Linked DNA regions of Homo sapiens: region 2 is linked to region 1. The links come from fine-mapping of genetic effects on gene expression. Tissue or cell type: atrial appendage. Region 1 holds a variant in brackets; the other region holds the start of a gene. All regions are shown on one strand. Distances are from middle to middle. Region 1 has its middle 200 kb from the start of SPHKAP. Region 2 holds the start of SPHKAP (SPHK1 interactor, AKAP domain containing).

Evidence for each region. PIP is the estimated chance that this variant, and not a neighbour inherited with it, causes the effect. A credible set is the group of variants that fine-mapping cannot tell apart.
Region 2: it holds the start of SPHKAP, and the variant in region 1 is the best candidate, but not a certain one, in a credible set for the expression of SPHKAP in atrial appendage (GTEx, PIP 0.61).

Annotation. Positions count from the first base shown.
Region 1 is chr2:228,374,319-228,379,699 of GRCh38, reverse strand. No RefSeq gene overlaps it. Among named protein-coding and RNA genes, the nearest start is that of SPHKAP, 200 kb to the right of the region's middle. The variant T/C (reference allele first, on the strand shown) is at 2,767.
Region 2 is chr2:228,179,455-228,184,835 of GRCh38, reverse strand. SPHKAP (SPHK1 interactor, AKAP domain containing) reads left to right here and starts at 3,149. Exons shown (of 12, transcript NM_001142644.2): 1 at 3,149-3,269. The coding sequence starts at 3,238.

The sequences.
Region 1 (5,381 bases):
AGTCACTCCATTCTGACTTCACTCCCACTGCACTCTATACCTGCTGAACTATTTATTACTTCTGCCTTTACCATTCATACAACCAGCTCTCTTCAAGATTATTATATTACACATTGTGTAGATAAATCCTTAGCCTCTGTAGTAAGCAGAGTTATGACGACAAAAGATGTCCACGTCCTAGTCCCTAGGACCTGTGACTATGTTATGTTATATGGAAAAGGGGAGTTAAGATAACATAAAATTAAGTTTGCTAATCAGATGATCTTAAAATCTTGTATTATCCAGGAGGGCCCAATGTAATGACAAAGGGCCTCAAAAGTGGAAGAAGGAGGTGCAGGAGAAAGAAGCAGAGAGATGGAAGGATGAAAAGAACTTGACCTGATGTTGCTGGCTTTGAAGATGGAGGAAGAGGCCTTGAGCCAAGAATGCCAGTAGCCTGTAGAAGCTGGAGAAAGCAAAGGAATCAGTTCTACCTAGCGCTTCTAGAAAGAAATGCAGCCTACCAATGTGATTTTACTTGGTGAGATCTGTGCCAGATTTTTGACTGTCAGAACTGGGAGATAATAAACTTATGTTTTGTTAGAGCACCGAATTGGTAGTAATTTGTTACAGCAGCATTAGGAACTAATCCAAGTTCCTTGATCTAACACTCCCCTGGCTTTGCCCCAACTTCTCAGGAATCCCTATCTTTCCAGGCTTTTCCTCTTCTCTGAGGTATTTACAGCCTCATGCTCTGTGCTAAATGCACTTTCTACTTACTCTGTGTTAACCTCACCCAGGGCTCTAATCAGCACTTCTATACAGATAACTCACACATTTTCATTCCTAGCCCATACCTCTTGTTGAGTTCTAGGTCTATAAATATAACCGCTTGGCTGACAGCTGACAGCTCTTCTCAGATGGATCACAGTCACTTCAAAACAAATCAGGCCAAAAAAAAATTAAATCATAATCTTTTTTCCCTTTTAACTTGATCCTCTTCTGGTATGTTCTATCATCTCAGTAAATGGAACCATCGTCCATCTAGTCATATAAACCAGACATTTAGGAGTCATCTTCAACACTTCTTCTTTATCTCTTATATCAAATCACTATCTCACATGAATTTTACTTACTAAATTATTGCCAAAATCCATCTATCCTCTTCTTTATAATCTCCATTGGCACCATTCTGGCTGTATTGGTTTTCTATTGCTGTATAACAAATCAACACAAACTCAGCCGCTTAAAACAACACCCATAATATTAGGTCACAGTGCTGAAGATTAGAAGTTTAGCAGGGTGTGGCTAGGTTCTCTGCTCAGGCTGAAATCAAAGTGTCAGCCAGCTGCATTGTCATCTGGAGCTTGGAGTCCCTTTACAAGATCATTCCTGTTATTGCTAGAATTTAGCTTCTTGCAGTTTTAGCATCAAAGTCCCCATTTCCTTGCTGGCTGTCAGCGGAGGACTGCTCCTTGCTTCTTGAGGCCACCTGTGCACATTCTTCATCACGGAGTACCCTCAAACTTCAAGTCAGCAATGGTGCAGTGAATTTTTCTTCTGCTCGCAATCTCTCTGACTTCTCCTCCCACAACCAGCTGGAGAAAGCTCTCTAAGCAATTTTCAGGACTCAAGTGATTAGAGCCAGACACATCCAGCTAATTTTCCTACCTTAAGGTCAACTGTGCGTATAACATAACATAATCAGTGGTACAATATCTAATATTCATAGATTCTAAAGATTAGGGTGGGCTATCTTAGGGGGCTATTTTTGAAATCTCACCTACAACATTGGCACACGCTATCATCATCACTCTCTGTCCTATGAATTCACTTCCTAATTCATCCACCCAAATCCACTTTTCTCCCCCTGGCAGCCAGAGTGATCATCTCAAAACACACTCCCGATAATTTTAACCAGGTGCTTCCTTTTATTGCTCTTAGCCATAGTCGTGGCCTAGAGCCGTGCTGCCTGATGTGCCTTCTGCAGCCTGGTTTCCTGGACTGTTAATGCTCTGCAGGGAGATCAGAACAGAAACCAAGAGCAAGCGTCTAGACATTTTGATAGTGATTTCACAGAGTAGTTTTATGTCTATAAACTAAACATATACTTGGAGCTTGTATTTTATGTACTTTAAAATTTGTTTGGTTTTTAGTGACGTATTATTTACCTTATTTTATGTAAGTATTGTGCCAAGAAAATTGAAACAAACAAAACTGATTCTCCAGCACTGAGAAATGGGGAAGCGTGGGGCCAGTGAGCTCTGCACAGCCTGGTCTCTACTTCTCCAGCTTCATCTCATGCCATGCAGCTTCTCACTCTCTACCTCTGGCTATAGTGGTGTTCTGTAGTCCCTTTGGCATGCCATGTTTCTTGTGCCTTGCTGACTGCTCTCACTAGGTTACAATCTCCCCATTATATTTTCTCAGATACCTCCAATATGTACTTATCACAGTCTCAATATTTCTTATTTATAAATATGCAAATATTGTTAATGTCTTCATTCCTCCTAAAATGTAAGTTCTGTGGTGTCAGAGAGCTTACCTTCCACCTAAGTGGCACACACCCCGCTCCCTGCACAGTGCCTGACACATTACTGGTGCTCAACAAATGCATACAGAAAAAGAGGATGAATAAATACACAAAGGTATTCCATATTATTCAAATTCAAATAGCGCCTCAGCCAAGTATTACCTGTTTGATCTTAATCATGTTAGTTAAATCTGCTGTTTCATTGTTATTATAGGTAAGATGGAAATAATATTGACAGCTTCACAAGACTGATA[T/C]GAAAATTAAAGCATGTGCAAAGGCTTTCTTTGAAAACTGCAAGAGGCTTTTAAGATGCAATTAATGAGTTGGTGTAAATTATGTTTCTTCCAACACATTGGCAAAAGGGCGAAATATACAACAAATCTAAAAGTCCTTTGGAAATATGTGCCACAGTCTTTAGAAATATTTAATCTTTGCTTCAATCATAGGGGTTCTAAAATTTTATTCTAACATAATAATCGGGCAAATATGCAATATATATGTAAAAAGATGTTCATTCCAGCATTATTTCTAATAAAAAAGTAAGAAAGACTCTAAATATAACCTCACACGTGAAGGGACTGTGGTAACCTGGTTGGCACAATTTAAGAAACAACCTAAATATGTTTCCCCCATATGAAGAGGGGTATGGACCAATGCTGGTAGAGGGCTGAGTATGGTACACAGTGTGACTGAAGAAAAAAATCTTTTTATACCCAGATACACAATGCTTTGCAGTGACAAGAGCCTACGAGTGTAACCCAAGCCTGAAGATTTATGATCACAATCATAGAGTAACCTCAACCTGAACATGACATGGAGAGGTTAGCTTGAGATTTACACTAACACTGGTGGCAGTGGGGCAGTAGACTCGATCCCCGGCACATAAGCTGTACAACTATTTCTATCAAGAGTCGACTTCTCCAAAACTGGTATCACTATGAGCAGAGAATCCCTGAGGCCTTCCTTTATGGTAGCGATTTAAAAAAAAAGCAACCACTTCTAAAGTAGATGTTTCAGAGGCAGTTATGGGGTTTCCAATCTTAATGAAATAATAACTCTGAGTTTTAAAATGTCTGCACCAACACAAGAGAAGCAATGTTCTCTATAAACACTTAGCAAGCATCCATAATTCTCGATTAATTCTTGGAGGCTCCAAAGTAGAAATACTGGATTGCCTGTGAGCTGGAAGGAGAGTGGCTTGAGACATTAATTTGAATGTAAAAGAAGTATGAATTAATATATCCTTCAAGTTGGTTCTACTCAGTATGCCGAACAAAATGCCTCAACTCTTTTTAAGTAAGAAAAAAAGATATGCTGTTTTGTTACTTCTCTCCCATATCCTTGTGCTCAATTAGGAAAAGATGAACTGATAAAATATACCGAGGACCCACCAGTCTAATTCCTGAGGATCCTTGGCAGGAACAGAGCCCAAATGAGAAAGGGTCTTTCTAAAGGGATGTTGCTTATAACTCACTGGAAACCACTTGAATAATGACTCTGAATTTGGAAGAACCGATCGGTGGAAGCAAACTTAAGTTCTACAGAGATGCTCTACTATGCAGAATTCAATGGTAGGAATAATGGCACAATGGACAATCCATGCTCAGCCTTAAGGCATTTCTGCTCAAATTTTCATAACACTACTGTAGATCCTAGATTTCTCTAATATTGATTAATATCACAAAGCCTATTTAGGATGTGGGTTGGAAGTTGTGTTAGCTAAGAAAAGAGAGCTTTCAGTTACAGCAAAACCATGGAGAAACATTCTGTCAGAAGGTAGAAGAAATAGAAGATTTTTACAAGGAGTACTAGAAAAAATTAATAAAGGAAGAGGGTGAAATATGGGCATAAAATGCACAAGAATAAGTGTATTTAGCAAAAACACATGCTTATGTGGTGCTCATGATGTGCCAGGCACTACTCAAAGAACTTCACGTGTATTTACTCATTGAATAACCTCTATAAGACCTATGAGGATGCTGCCAGTATTAACTGAGGAATGAGAAAACTGAGATGTAGAGGGCTGACAGCCTTTCCAGGTAAGTAGCTGAACTAAGGTTTAAATCCAGGCATCCTGGCTCTAGGCCTGTTTTTCAGCCACCACGCCTTGTAAGAAGTGGCAAAAACAACGTTTTTGTAGGAGAAATTTAATGGGAAGCAAGAATTTGGGAATTTGGCTGGATGAAACATGCAGGGTCCAGGAAGAAGTTGAGCATGCAGAAAGAATTTGGAAATGTGGCCAATAATAGCACCGTGCAGTTTGAGAGTTCATATGGTGGAAACAGCCATGTGGCACTGGCAGCCTCCTTAAACTTGATCTTCCTGTCCCATTGCCCTGGGCTTGGCTTTCCTTCACTACAAAGAACCCATTTGTTACTTCTAGTGAGAAAATTGAAAGTGGCTGTGGGAAATAAAGCTGAAATTACTCAACATCTGAGCAACCTGTTAGAAATGGCAATGACTGTCCTTAACCTTGAAAAACTCTCTCAAATGAAGACTGCTTGTAGCTGATTTCAAAGGTAAAAAGGAACACTGTTTTAATATCTGTGCGTTAAGCCCTTTATGTTATGCTTTGTTAGTCTTCACTGGCTATAATTTTTGCCACCATTATTTTATTTTTTGCCTTTTTGTCAGGGGTAGCACAATCATTAGCTCCTAAAATAATGAGAATTTAAGGTATTAATATTTTTCCTTTTCAGTGATTGTATGTAATTTAGGATTAAAAATACCAATAACTACATACTATTTTAGGCAAAGAAAGGAAATGAGCAAATGTTCACTATTTTAAGATGAGAGCATTATATAAAGGAAATTGTGGCCATAAAATTTAACCAAATCATGATTTATTTCTTATGATGAGAAAAACCTG
Region 2 (5,381 bases), 190 kb after region 1:
AGTCATAATCTTTCCTTTGATTTTCAAATGTAGTTTAGGAAACTCAAAAGAAGAAATTCTGTTGTATCTTTCAAATTTTTCTTACTGTTTTCTTCTTTCCTGATATTCTAAGATGCCTGAAACTGTAAAGACAGTTTCATTGGTGTCTAGAGAATTTCCTTTAATCATTCTTTTAGGAGAGCTCTGCTGGAATTCTATACCATTTTCATCTTCATTTCTAATGAGTATTTTTATTAGACATAAGATTCTGTGTTCATAGTTGTCTTCCTCCACACCTGAAAAATGTTGTCAATTACTTCAGTCCTCCATGGCTTCTAGTGGGAAATCCACTGTTTTTGAACTATATTTCCCTTATGGGTAAAGTGATGTTTCTCTCCAACTAATAAAACAGTTTGTGTTTTATTTTGGTTACTGTATTTTTCACTTCTAAAATCTCCACTTAGTTTTTCTTTACATCTTCTACTTATATTTGCTTAGATATTTTAGGGGCTGACTTTCTATTTTTTTTATATTACTTATTAAATTATTTTTATCATGGCTGCTTTAAAATCTTTTGACAGATACATTTAACATCCCTGTCATTTCCATGTTATTTAGTATCAATTGATTGTTTTGTTTTGTGTTGATTCTCATTCAGATCTGATTCTTAATATGACAAATAATTTTCTATTAAAGGCTGCTTATTTGGGGCATTATGTTAGAACATTCTGAATTTTATTTAAAGAGCTGTTTTAGACGGATTCTCTTGACACTTCTCCTGTAAGGCAAGGAAAATAAGGGCAGCACTGCCTCATCACTACCAAGTGGGGTTAGAAGTCTGGGCTCCTCACTTGGCTTTTGTTGACACTTGAAAAACAGGTAGTGGCATTCATTACTGTGAAGCAAGGGTGGGTGGGAGTTCAGGGTCCTCACTAGGCCTGCACTGATATCTCTCTGGCTAAGAGTGGTAGGAGTACCCAGTTCCTGCTTCCCATGTGGCCTTCTGTGATTGGGAGTGGGGGGCAGGGGACACACACAGGGCCTTATTACTTCTGAACTATGGTTTTTGACTCTCCACAACAATTCCTCTGACACTGCTTCAGTGTAGAGTGGAAGTGGGGCGGGGCGGGGGGGGGGGGGTGCCGATTACTGCTCTGTGGATGTGAAAGTACAAGCTCCACTGATACCAAGGTGAAGAAGCGGTGCTGCTACTCCTTGTTAGGATTAAAAGTCCTGGATCCCATGGAACCAGCCCAAATGCCCATCAATCAACGAGTGGATAAAGAAATTCTGCTATACATATATATGATGGAATACTACTCAGTCATAAAAAGGAATGAATTAATGGCATTTTTAGCAATTTGGATGGAACACGAGACTATTATTCTTTGTGAAGTAACTCAGGAATGGAAAACCAAACATATGTTCTCGCTCGTAAGTGGGAGCTAAGCTGTGAGGATGCAAAGGCATAAGAATGCTACAATAGACTTTGGGGACTCAGGGGAAAGTGTGGGAAGGGGGTAAGTGATAAAAGACTGCAAATTGGGTTCAGGGTATACTGCTCAGGTAATGGGTGCACCAAAACCTCACAAATCACCACTAAAGAACTTAAGTAACCAAATACCACCTGCTCCCCAAAAATCTATGGAAATAAAAAATATTTTTTAAAAAGTCCTGGCTCCCTACTTTGCCTTAATGCCACCTGTATGTGTGGAATGGGAAGGGGACTTCATTATTTCTGTGTGGATGTGGAAGTTCAAGCTCTTCTTGGCACCATGACGGGGGAAACGAGACATGAAGAGGTGAGTGCGGCCAGTGTTTGGAGGGGATGAAAGTCCTGGTCCCTACTTAGTCTCCTCTGACACCACCTCGCCCAGGGGACTGACTTACATCCTTAGAGCCTACAGATGGTGAAATGTAGGCTCCCTACTTGGCCTTTGATGGTGTAGTTGAAAAAGGTCCACAGGTTTTTTCTCATGGTGTTTGGCCACAGTGGAGCTATTATTGTGTGTAAATTTTCCATCTTGCTAAGCTGCCTCTCTCCTGATCCTTTGGCTAGAAAGAGGAGTCCTTTGTCAAGGCTTTTCCTGTCTCTGCCCCTTGACATTTCCGGGTTGTCATCTTCTTCAGCCAAAGTCTGGGAGAACCTCAGGAACCCATCATCATGCCAAGCCTTGAGTCCCAGGATCTCTAGCTGGTCTGCATTCTTCTGTCCACCTTTTTCTCATGCCTGTTTCAGAGATAATATCCGGGGGATTTCGTTGTACTTACTAGGAGGAATAGCTAAAAGTACATTGGCTCAACCTTCCCATTTGTGGAAGTCCCAAATTTTATTTTTAATTTGTTTTTTAATTGGAAAAAGAAGCAGATTCAACAGCGCCCTCATTTTAGCAGATATTTGCTACTATCAGTGTCTTTCTTCTTAAGAAAACTGTCCTTTTTGCTCAGGGAGATACCCAGCCGTCAACTGGGGAAGTTTGTGACAGCTCTCCCTCCCAGGTTCTGAGTGCTGTCCTCGGATGGATGGCCGCTCTCATAGGTTTTGAGATTTCTATGTGCGCACACGGTTCTAACAGAAGAGAGAGAAGACTAAGTCACAGTTAAGCAAAATGAGTTAAAGAAACGTGAAAACCAAAACCAAGAGAGAAAGTCCAAATAAAGGGAAAAGACTTAGGAGGTCAAAGCCAGCATCGTTCTGAGTGATCGACCATAACATGGTAGACCACAAACAAAAATGAAATCGACACAGGAAGCCAGAGGAGTGGCGCGCAACCAGTGGGGAGTGTCGGCATTGCCAGGAGTGAGGGCGTGAATGTGGGAAAGTGCGTGAACAACTTCAGGGCTCAGACCTACTGTACGCCAGCGAGAAAGGGAGGGGAGACGATGGTGGTTGGGGAGAGAGGAATTTTGTCGGAGTCACCTATGCTTCTGGGCACGAATGAGCGATAGAGCAGGATCCTCGAGCAACTGAGACTGGGGCCCGCCTGCAGGAGGCAGGAGCCAGGCAGAAAGGTGGGAGCGTTGGCCACGCGCTCCTGCAAGATCAGAGAGGACGGCGGGAGGGGACAGCGGGCGGTCGCAGCGCACAGAGCTTGCTGGCCAGGGAGGAGCTAGTCTCCGTGGGCGCCGCCGCCGCCCCAGCCTGCGCGCCTCTCTCCTGGCGCGCGCCAGTCTGGCACTCTGGGAGCTGGGTCCTAGCACCACAGACTTATCCTTCGCCTGCACTTTCCGTCTTTCTTCTCTGGGCGCCCACCAACAATGGATGGCAACTCCCTGCTCTCGGTACCAAGGTAAGACCCGCTTCTTTCTATGCCCAATACCATGTCGATCAAACTCCGTTCCGCGTTGTGAGTCGCTCACCAACTTGCCCCAGAGCGCTTCGGTTTGCACGGGGCTCCCAGCGAGGAGACAGGGGTCACTGCACTTGTAAATAAGTCCGGCCCAGCCTCGCTGGAGCTACAGGGGACCCTGTCAACTGCCCCACAGGGCGCGATGCTGAGTGGGGCCTGTGCGCTGGAGTGGCACGGGTTGGGGGTCAGCCCCGTGCCCGCCTCTAAGGCCCAGGGACGGAGGTCTGCTCTGCCCTAGGTGGAGCCAGGAGCCGGACTTTCCGCGGACACAGCTTGGAGAGGTTTCACACCTTGTGGAGAGACAGATTCCAAGGTCTAAAACAGGAGGGAACCGGGCTAGGGCAAAGTACCCCCGCTTTCCTTCCACCTTGACCTGGGCGGGTGTCTGGGGCTGCTGGGGTGGGGAAGATTGTCCCTCACCCCCGACCGACACCTAGACTGCCCCCAAAGCGAGATCTTAAGACAGGGCAGAAAACACCTAGGTCCCCTGCAGTCCCACAGTCCTCCACCGTCCCCACACCCCCTGCCAGTCTGCGAGTTCCTTCTTTAACACCTTTGGTTTTGCTCGTCCCCCACACCGGGGTAGGTCACGGACGCCACCCCAGGCGCTGCCGGGTGCGAGTAACGTGTTTTTCGGGGTGTGTTTCTTTCTCCTGTCTCTTTTTTGCCCCTGTTCCACACTCCTTCTAACTCAGTCCTTTGCGAAATTAAGAACCTGAGATTTTTATGTCTTTCCCATAAATGTCTGGGTAAATCGGGGCGGTGGTGCTGGGCCTGCTCCCCCAGCCGGGCAGGTGGCCTTTGCGCTCTTTGCGCTCGCTGGGCGCGGAGCGCTCGCGCCGGGAGCCAAGGATGCTGTTGCTCCCAGGGAGAGGGTGTCCTGGCTGCGGCGCAGCCCCACCTCTCCTGGGCAGCGGCTTAGCGTGGCTCTTCGTGCCATCCCTACTCCCTCTTTTCCCCAAGCAGGTAGGTAGGTAGCTTCCAGAGCAGAGCACCAGGCCCTAGAATAAACACTTTAAGTTCGGATTCTTGGAGAGCAGCAAAACCCAATATCCACTGGCCAGGGCACACATGGAGTGATACTACATTGCCAAGGAGCCGAGATGCGGTGGGAGGGGAGGTGGGGGTGGCGGAGGAGGAGAGAGACTGCTTTCCAAAGGCATTGAAGGCTGCCATCTAGAGACCTGAATTATTTGTATTCCGCGATGAAATAACGCTTTCTCAGCTCCACAGGCACTTCCTCCTTAAGCGTCCCTTCGCTGCGGGGATAGCAAATGGTTCAGAAAAGGCCCGCTGTGGTTTCTGTGCACTCCTTGAAGCAGCTCTTAAGTGAAGTCTCAATCCCCACCCTCCCGATCCCTGCCCCAGCGGAACAGGGTCAAAGGACCACCGCTGTCTTTCCATTTTGCCGATTTTTTAACTTAAAAAAAATTGCCAGTGATGTTTACGCAAAGGCATTAAGGTGTTTGGAAAGTCATGTAAATTGGAAGCTCACTTTCTCCACCTATCTATTCTACTGTCTAGGGCAAATGGTCATTAGAATTGAAACGGTGAATTGGGTGGTCCTAATAATCTTCCGACAGAGATTTTTGATAACAGATTGATTGCTTTAATCCGGTTTTACAGACCAATATAGCTGCGCCTGAATCCTGATTATATTTCTATTCAAATACCGGAACATTTTCTAAATTACTAGAAACACATTGTGCCAGTAATTTATTACAATTATTTCTGTCTCAGTACTATAAAATGACCTTATAAAGAGCAAAGCAACTCTGATGATATTGCTCTGTATCTTGTAGTGGCCTATCAAAATGTTAATATAGGCTTAATATCAGCTGCAGCAAACTAAGCTTTTTGAACCTGACTTTTTATTCACCAATTTCCACAAATCAGTGTAGTAATTTCCGGTATTTTATTAGCCTTCTTAATCCACAAATCAGTGTAGTAATTTCGGGTATTTTATTAGCATTCTTAATCATGTAAATTAACTCCTGTACATGAGTTGATTCAATCCTCTATTTCATTGTATACAAGAAACACCATTCCTTT